Linked DNA regions of Homo sapiens: region 1 is linked to region 2. The links come from fine-mapping of genetic effects on gene expression. A gene starts in region 2. The other region holds a variant in brackets. All regions are shown on one strand. Distances are between the middles of the regions. Region 1 has its middle 32 kb from the start of FADD. Region 2 holds the start of FADD (Fas associated via death domain).

What was found. PIP is the estimated chance that this variant, and not a neighbour inherited with it, causes the effect. A credible set is the group of variants that fine-mapping cannot tell apart.
Region 1: its variant is the best candidate, but not a certain one, in a credible set for the expression of FADD in whole blood (INTERVAL, PIP 0.67).

What each region holds. Positions count from the first base shown.
Region 1 is chr11:70,232,949-70,237,335 of GRCh38, reverse strand. No RefSeq gene overlaps it. Among named protein-coding and RNA genes, the nearest start is that of FADD, 32 kb to the right of the region's middle. The variant A/G (reference allele first, on the strand shown) is at 1,777.
Region 2 is chr11:70,200,758-70,205,110 of GRCh38, reverse strand. FADD (Fas associated via death domain) reads right to left here and starts at 1,815. Exons shown (of 2, transcript NM_003824.4): 1 at 1,366-1,815. The coding sequence starts at 1,651. RefSeq lists silencers at 1,085-1,276, 1,326-1,405.

The DNA of each region.
Region 1 (4,387 bases), 32 kb before region 2:
GAGACAGAGGCCTGGGGTCCAGCCTGCCTTCCCTTCTTCCCTCCAGTCAAGGAAAGTGACTTTTTTATGATTCTTATTTCCTGAGATGTGAAAGTAAACCAGGGGCCTGGGGGTGCAGGAGAAAGATTTCTTAGGTAGTAAGTCTTTTCCCAAATTATTTATTTATTATTTTATTTTATTTTATTTTATTTTATTTTATTTTTTAGAGACAGAGTAGTGCTCTGTCACCCAGCTGGAGTGCAGTGAGTGGCACAATCATAACTTACTGCAGCCTCCAACTTCTGGGCTCAGGTGATCCTCTCGCCTCAGCCTCTGAGTAACTGGGACCACAGGTGCACGCCACCACATTCTGCTCATGAAAAAAAAATTTTTTTTTTTTTTTTTTTTTTTTTTTGGTAGAGACAGGGGCAGGTCTCACTATGTTGCCCAGGCTGGTCTTGAACTCCCGGCCTCCAGTTTTTCTTCTGTCTCAGCTTCCCAGAGTGCTGGGATGGTGGATGTGAGCCACCATGCCTGACCTAGAAATTCTTAATTAAGTGCCACTACTTTGGAAGGGGGATGAAATCAAGTGGTCGGTCTCTGCCAGGATCTGGAATAGGCTGCTAGGGTTCCCAGGCCCCATGCTGATGATGGATCCCTCTCTCCTGGAGGAGGTGGGGGCGCGTGGCCCCACGGGCTCACTCGGCTTGATGGAGAGGCCTCTTCTGAATGCCCAGCTCCCATGTAACATCCTCTGCTGGTCCCAGGTGCCTCCCCCCATTCACCTGGCCTGGGCTCAGTGCCCCATTCACTGCCCTCTGCCTAATGGTTGGCCTAATGGTTGGCCACTCCAAGTGGACCAATGGATTCTTGGCTTGTCCAACTGTCTCCTGTGAGCTGATTCCTATGGGCCATAAACAGGGTGCGACTTGCACCGAGGAGGGATAGGAAGAGAAGGGACAGATGTGGACAGCCAACCTGCAATGACAGCTGTGGTCACCACAGAGATCCCTTATGGGCAGGTAAGATATTCCAGGCACCAGATGTGGTGGCTCAAGCCTGTAGTCCCAGCTATCTGGGAGGCTGAGGAAGGAGGATTGCTTGACCCCAGGAGATCGAGGCTGCAGTGAGCCAGGATTGCGCCACTGCACTCCAGGCTGGGTGACAGAGTAAGACTCCATCTCTTAAAAAAAAAAAAAAGATATTCCAGTTGCTTTACATCCGTAACCCTCCCAGTGGACGTGAGAGCTATCATCTGTGGCAGACTGTATCTCCCAAAAGGTTATTGCAGCAGTGTCTCCTGTCCCATATACTCTTCCACTTTTCCACCTTTCCAATTTTCCACCTTTCCACTGCCCCATCAAAGTCTAGAGTTTACAGCCTGGACAACATAGTGAAACCCTGTCTCTACCAAAAAATACAAAAATTAGCCAGATGTGGGGAGGTGGAGGTTGCAACAAGCCGAGATGGCAGCACTGCAGTCCAGCCTGGACAACAGAGCGAGACCCTGTCTCAAAAACAAAAACAAAAAGTCTGGAGTCTAATTCTCCTGATTTTGAACCTGGGTGAGTTTGTGACTCACAGGCCACCAAGTGGGCAATTTAGCTGTCCTCAGGCTGTCATGTTGGGAGGAAGCCCATACCGGAGCGTCAGGCAGAACCACCCAGTGGGGCCCTTCCTGAATTCCTGACCCACAGAAGCCCTGAGACACAAGAGACTTACTGGGGTTTTAAGCCACTCAGTTTTGGGGTGATTTGTCATGCAGAAACAGATCATTGGAACATCAGTCCATTTCTC[A/G]GGTGAGGAAAATGAGGCTCAGAGTGTACCTTTGGAGTACATTTGTCCAAGATCACCTGGCAAATACATAGGAGAGTCTAGACCTAACCCCAGTCTGTGACTTCAAGGTCTGGGCTCCACTTTGCACCTGAACTTATGCACGAATGCATGTCAGTGACTTTGTCTATACCAGTAAGAAAGCCCCTTGAAGTCGTTTCATATGAAAGCAGTCGGGACACAGCCAGGCTTGGATGGGAAGGCCAGGCCTTGTATGCTGACTATTCTGCTATTCTGGGAGCTGGGCCTCCTTAGCGTCTCAGCCTTAGTCCCTTCACCCAGCCTGTATCTCACAGGGATTCCTTTATTAGTATTGTTTCCTAAGTACCTGGTGTGCCCAGGCTGCTGGTGGGTACATAAAAGTCAAAGGCAGCCGGGCACAGTAGCTCATGCCTGTAATCCCAGCACTTTGGGAGGCTGAGGTGGGCGGATCGCCTGAGGTCAGGAGTTTGAGACCAGCCTGGCCAACATGGTGAAACCCCGTTTCTACTAAAAATACAAAAATTAGCTGGGCGTGGTGGCTCATGCCTGTAATTCCAGCACTTTGGGAGGCCGAGGTGAGTGGATCACCAGAGGTCAGGAGTTCGAGACCAGCCTGGTCAACATGGTGAAATCCCATCTCTACTAAAAACACAAAAATTAGCCGGGCATGGTGGCGGGCACCTGTAATCCCAGTTACTCAGGAGGCTGAGGCAGGAGAATCTCTTGAACCTGGGAGGCAGAGGTTGCAGTGAGCTGAGATTGCGCCACTACACTCCAGCCTGGGAGGCAGAGCAAGACTGTCTCAAAAAAACAAAAACAAACAAAAACCCATCAAAATTAGCTGGGTGTGGTGGCAGGCACTTGTAATCCCTGCTACTTGGGAGGCTGAGGCAGAAGAATCGCTTGAACCCAGGAGGTGAAAGCTGCAGTGAGCTGAGATCGCGCCACTGCACTCCAGCCTGGGCGACAGAGCAGGACCCCACTGCAAAAAAAAAAAAAAAAAAAAAAAAAAAAAGTCAAAGGTGAGTAGGATATGGGCTTCCCTGACATCCCAGGTCCCCAGGCTATAAGGAAGAAGGGCCAGTAAAAAAGTAAGTCGACCACCATCCAACCCATACCCCCATGGGGCATGCTTAATACAGAGGGTGAAGCTGAAGCTCTATCTGCAGCAGGTTCTAGAAGGTCACTCCATCCCCCCCATGAAAGCAGATCCCTTAGCCTCCTAGCCTGACAGACAACAGCAGCACCTGAGATGTCCCAGGGGGTTAATGTGTTCTAAGCACTTAGCATATCGACTGGTCTAACCCTCACCAACACCCTTGAGGAAGGTGCCATTCCTATCCCCATTTTACAGATAGGAAGGACTGAGGCGGAGAAGCTAAATAACTTGCCCAGATCGCCCAGTCAGCAGGAGGCAGGCTCCTGGCGGCTAACTCCATAGCCAACACTCACCCCCGAACAGGGAGTGCCTGGTAAATGTCGACTGAACGGTGATCCGCTGGGGCATCTACGCAGAGATGGGCAATGAGTAGGAGTGTAGCAGGAGAGAGAAGCAGGCATTGGAATTCCTGAGGGTGGGAAGCATTTCTGAAGGCACAGAGAGGCACTAAACATCATCTGCTGGTTGACTCTAGCTGGGACACTCATGATGGCTGACCGTGCCAGGCCCTGGGGAGAGGGAGTAGGGAGGTGGCTCCAGCCTGGACGTGGAGGCACTCCCCAAGGCTGGAGCTTCGCAGGAGGACACTAACCTCCCTGGGATGCCGAGGACTCACACTTCATCCTGGGGCGGTGCGTTCAGCCTGCAGGTGTAGACAGTCAATGACTCCAGTTAATGGTGAGGTGAGGAACTTGGCACTGAACAGTGTTGAGTCACACGGTGAGAACGTCTTTCCCTTTTCAACAATCGGTCAGTCCCTCTGAACAAAGTGAGATTTCATCTCGGGCTAGTGATGACTAATGTCTTCTTAAACAAAGTGAGTAGCCCTCAGTTTCAGAGCCTGGAAGGCAGTGGAGTGTATGACGAGTTTCAGAATGTCACTTTTTTATTGCATTCCTTTTCATAGCCACCTCCTGATTATTCCAAGTGATACTGTGTTTCAATCAAGGTTAGCTTTGTGTAAGTGTCTGAAGTCTCCAAATCACAGTGACTTCAATGAGGGTTTATTTTTCTCATACAAAGGCAACCCTGATGTAAGCTTTCTAGGGCTAGCAGGGAGGCTCTGTAATCTTTAAGAACCCAGGATCCTTCTATCCTGCTGCATTGCTTCCTCATGACCCAATATAGCTGCCTGTGCTCCAGCTATCATGCTTGCATTCCAGGCAGAAGGAAGGAATAAAGGGATGCTGAAGGGCACAATCCTCTCCCTCCTTTAAGGCTGTTTTTAGGAAGTTCCACACTCCATTTCTGCACATATGCAGAACTTAGTCAAAGGGCCACACCTGGCTGCAGGGGAGGTTGGGAAATGCAGCCTTGACTGTCTGCTTAGCTAAAAATTGGGGATCTTGTGTAAAGTGAGAAGGGATGAAAAGATACTGGGTGACACCAGCAATCTTTGCCATAGACTGTTTTCTTTTTGTAACAGAGACACAA
Region 2 (4,353 bases):
GTTACCATGACTGTACAGATGAGGAAATTGAGGCACAGGGAAGCTAATGGACATTCCTGAGATCGTGTAGCTAGACGATGGCAGAGCCATGTTCTGAAACCCTAAGAGTGTGGTGCCAGAGTCGACCCTTAACCGCTATGCTGAACTTCTGGGGAGGAAGGCAGAGTCGCCCGCTACCAACCTGTCCATACCCACCGCTCACCTTCTGGTGTACTTTTCCCAGCACACAGTAACTACATGACGATATAAATAAAACCAAGCACACATACATCTCAAATGTCAGCTATGTTTCGTAGACCGCCTTTAAAATGCAATTTATCAGTGTTTTTCCAGACATTAAATATCCATAAAACCCGATTTTTCTACGTCCTGTTTTGTTTGTTCAGTACTGATTTTTTTTAAAATCTGGACTTGACTGCTCTCAGGCAGAGAGCTGTTCTGTCCATCCTGTCCCCAACAGGCACCAGTCTTTACAGAGTGAAACCCATGGTGACACATTTAGGCCCTATCTGATTGGTGACTGAATGGCTGATTCCAAGCTACAGCTTGAAGCCTCTGAGAGGCGTCCCCAGAGCACTCCCAAGCCTCTCCCGACTCTGAGAACAAGGGGGGTAGGGCTGAGAAACTCTGCTGTACTCAGGGTTTCTTTTTTATCCTGGAAGCTGCTGCAATCCACAGGCGAGGGTGGAGAGGGAGTGACCGAGAGCAGGACAGGAAGCCACTCCACAATGAACTTGACCAGAGAGGCAGTGTAGTGGCTAACACTACCCATCCGGAGGCCGGACTGCTTGGCTCAAGCCTAGCTCCGTCAGTTATCGGCTGCGCATTTCGACAAAGCCACTTAACCTGTGAGCCACAGTCCTGTCCTCTGTAAAATGGGAACAGTGATAGCTAACAGTATCTAAGCCACAGGGCTACTGCGAAAATTGTATTTGGCAGTTACAAGGGTAAGCGGCACACTGTAAGCCCCTGGGTAGGAGTTACTGAATGCTAGTATTACTCTCAGACAGCCGTGAAAAGCATATTCCGAGACAGAAAGGAAATGATGCGAGGCAGGCTCACCCAACCTCTGCCCCTCCCCCACACCTTCTCTGACTCATCTTTTCTTCAGTGAGTTTTCTAATTTACCCGGGCAGAAGTGGGTGGAGGAAAAAGGACTGTGCGTGTCCACGCCCTGCAACCTCGAATAAGTTAACTTTTCTGCGTTTCTGGCTCTCCCATCTGCAAAACCAGGGCTGTACGGAGAAAACCCACGCAAATCAAACCCGGCAAAGGGGAGGCGCCTGGAGGCCAACCGGAGGAGCCTCGCAGCACCTACAGCCGGGCGACCAGGCCCTGGCTCCCCCGGCCCGGCCCCGCGCCCACCTTCTTCCCCAGGCGCGGCCCCGGCCGCCGCCCCCGCCTCGAAGTCGTCGACGCGCCGCAGCAGGTCGTGGCGCCGCAGGGAGGCGAGCAGCTCGCGCAGGAGCTCGGTGTGCCCGGGCTCCAGGTCGTTCTGCTCCAGCAGCATGGAGAAGAGGTCTAGGCCGCTCTGCACGCGCTCCAGCTTGCGCTTGCCCACGCGCCCGAGGCATAGGAACTTGAGCTCGGTCAGCTCGCTGCTCGACAGGCTGGACGACACCGAGTGCAGCAGCACCAGGAACGGGTCCATGGCGGGGTCTGCAAGCGGCCGGGGCTGCGGCCCGGCCCTCCGTGCGCCCTCTGTCCTCGGCTCGCTGGCCCTGGCCAGGTCTCGCCGCTTGCCCAGCGGCCCAAGGATTCCACCCCCGAACCTGCACTCCGGTGCCTGATTCACTACAGGAAATCGACAAGAGCGCGTTTTCGACCGTTATCTCGCGAAAACTAAGGGACCCGCGCATGCGTCCCTAGCGAAGCCGCAGCCGTTTCCGCCCTGGCTGGCGGCGCCGCGGACGGGCGCGGCTTCTGCGCCTGCGCCCGGCGTATCGTCTCTTTTCCGGGTGGGAGGTGGGGCCTTGGGTGTCCTGAGAGCCTGCAGGTGGCCCAGCTCTCTGCGGTGAGGGCGGTCGCGCCTCTGCCGAGTCCACCTGTTTGCAAAGCGCGGTGCGGCCCTACTGTGTGCAGGGCCGGGGCGGGGAGGGCGCAGCCCGAACGTCACGTGCCCTCACATCTGTTGGTGACCAAGGTTACTTATGCATTAACGTTTAGGGACAAACGTGGAAAATGCATTCTTTGGTGCCCCTGGAGACATCTTGTGTGTGCAGAAAACACTACTCAGAAGTTTATGTGCGTTTAAACATGTGATTTAAATAATACATGATTTCCAAAGTAGCAGTCGTTTATTCAATCAACAGTATTGAGCGCCTACTGTGCCAGGTAGTAGGGTCTGGGGACAAATTAGTGAGCGAAGCGCGAGGGTCCCCGCGTGCCCGGAGTTTACATCATAATTACAAAAGCGACACGCTCCAGAAGAGAAGGTCGTGGCGGCCGTGGTGGCTCAGCCTGCAATGCCCGCACTTTGGGAGGCTGAGGCAGGATTGATTGAGACAAGGGGTTCGAGACCAGCCTGGGTAACATAGTGAGACCCCGTCTCTATTAAAAAATAAAAATAAGGAAAAATAAGGAAATCGTATAGTATGCCAGAAATTCAGAAGAGCCAGGGGAAAGGGAGTCTCTTCACGGGGTGGGCGTGTGGAGGGTGGGGGGCCCGGTGGTCTGATGGGGCCTCTGTAAAGGCGCAGGTGAAGGCTGGGAGGGGCCGGGTACCTAGGTGTGGGGGGAAGAGCTGGGCACACGGAGAACAGAAGAGCAGAGCACAGGGGACGGCTGGGGTTCCAGGAGCAGCAATGCCGTGGGTCTGGAGGTGAGGAGGGGGTGCAGATTAGGAGAGCCCTCACCAGCCAACAAGGACCCAGCTTTACCACAGGGTGGGGCAGGGGCTGATGCCAGCTGAGTTTGTTTTCTTGAGATATAATTCACATACCATTCAATTCACCCTTTTAAAGTTATACTTCAGTGGTTTTTAGTGTAGTCACAAGGTTGTGCAACCCTTACTGCTGTCTAACTTTAGGACATTTTCATCACCCCAAGAAGAAACCCATTAGCATGTACTCCTCCCCTCCCCCACCAACCACGAATCTACTTTTTTTTTCTTTCTTTCTTTTTTTTTTTTTTTTTGCTGTTTTGAGACAGAGTCTCGCTCTATGGCCAGGCTGGAGTGCAGTGGTGCGATCTGGGCTCACTGCAACCTTTACCTCCCGGGTTCAAACAATTCTCCTGCTTCAGTCTCCTGAGTAGCTGGGATTACAGGTGCCTGCCACCATGCCTAGCTAATTTTTGTATTTTAGTAGAGACAGGGTTTCACCATGTTGGCCAGGCTGGTCTTGAACTCCTGACCTCAAGTGAGCCTCAGCCTCCCAAAGTGCTGGGATTACAGGCGTGAGCCACTGTGCCCTGCCGAATCTACTTTTTAAAATCTATGGATTTGCCAATTCTGGACATTCCATGTGTACAGAACCATACAGTATGTGGCATTTTGTGTCTGGCTGTTTTCAGCATCATTTTCAAGGTTCATCCATGATGTAGAACATATGAGTACTTCATTCCTTTTTTTTCTTTGAGACAGAGTGTCACTCTTTTGTCCAGGCTGGAGTGCAGTGGCACAATCTCGGCTCATTGCAGCCTCTGCCTCCCGGGCTCAAGCGACTCTCGTTTCTTGTGCCTTAGCCTCCTGACTAGCTGGGATTGTAGGTGTGTGCCACTATGCCAGGCTAATTTTTGTATTTTTAGTAGAGACAGGGCTTTGCCATGTTGGCCAGCCTGGTCTCAAACTCCTGGCCTCAAGTGATCCTCTTGCCTCACCCTCCCAAAGTGTTGGGATTACAGGCGTGAGCCACTGTGCCCAGCCTCCTTCCTTTTTATGGATGCATACTATTCCACTGTCTGGGTGTTTGGGTGCCACAGTGTGTCTATCCATTCATCGGAGGATGGACATTGCCTTTGCTTCCACTTTTTGGCTGTTGTGAATAATGCTGCTATGAACACTGAGTTACAGTTTTATTTTGTTTATTTATTTATTGAGACAGGGTCTTGCTTTGTCACCCAGGCTAGAGTGCAGTGGCACAGTCATAGCTCACTGCAGCCTCCTGGGCTCAAGCGATCCTCCCATTTCAGCCTCCTGAGTAGTTGGGATTACAGGTACATACCACCACCCCTGGCTAATTTTCATTTTTTTTTTTTTTTTTTGTAGAAACAGGATTTTGCCATATTCCCCAGGCTGGTCTTGAGCTCCTGGGCTCAAGTGATCCACTAGCCTCAGCCTCTCAAAGTGCTGGAATTTCAGGTGTGACCACCGTGTCTGGTCTTGAGTTACATTTTTTTTTTGAGATGGGGTCT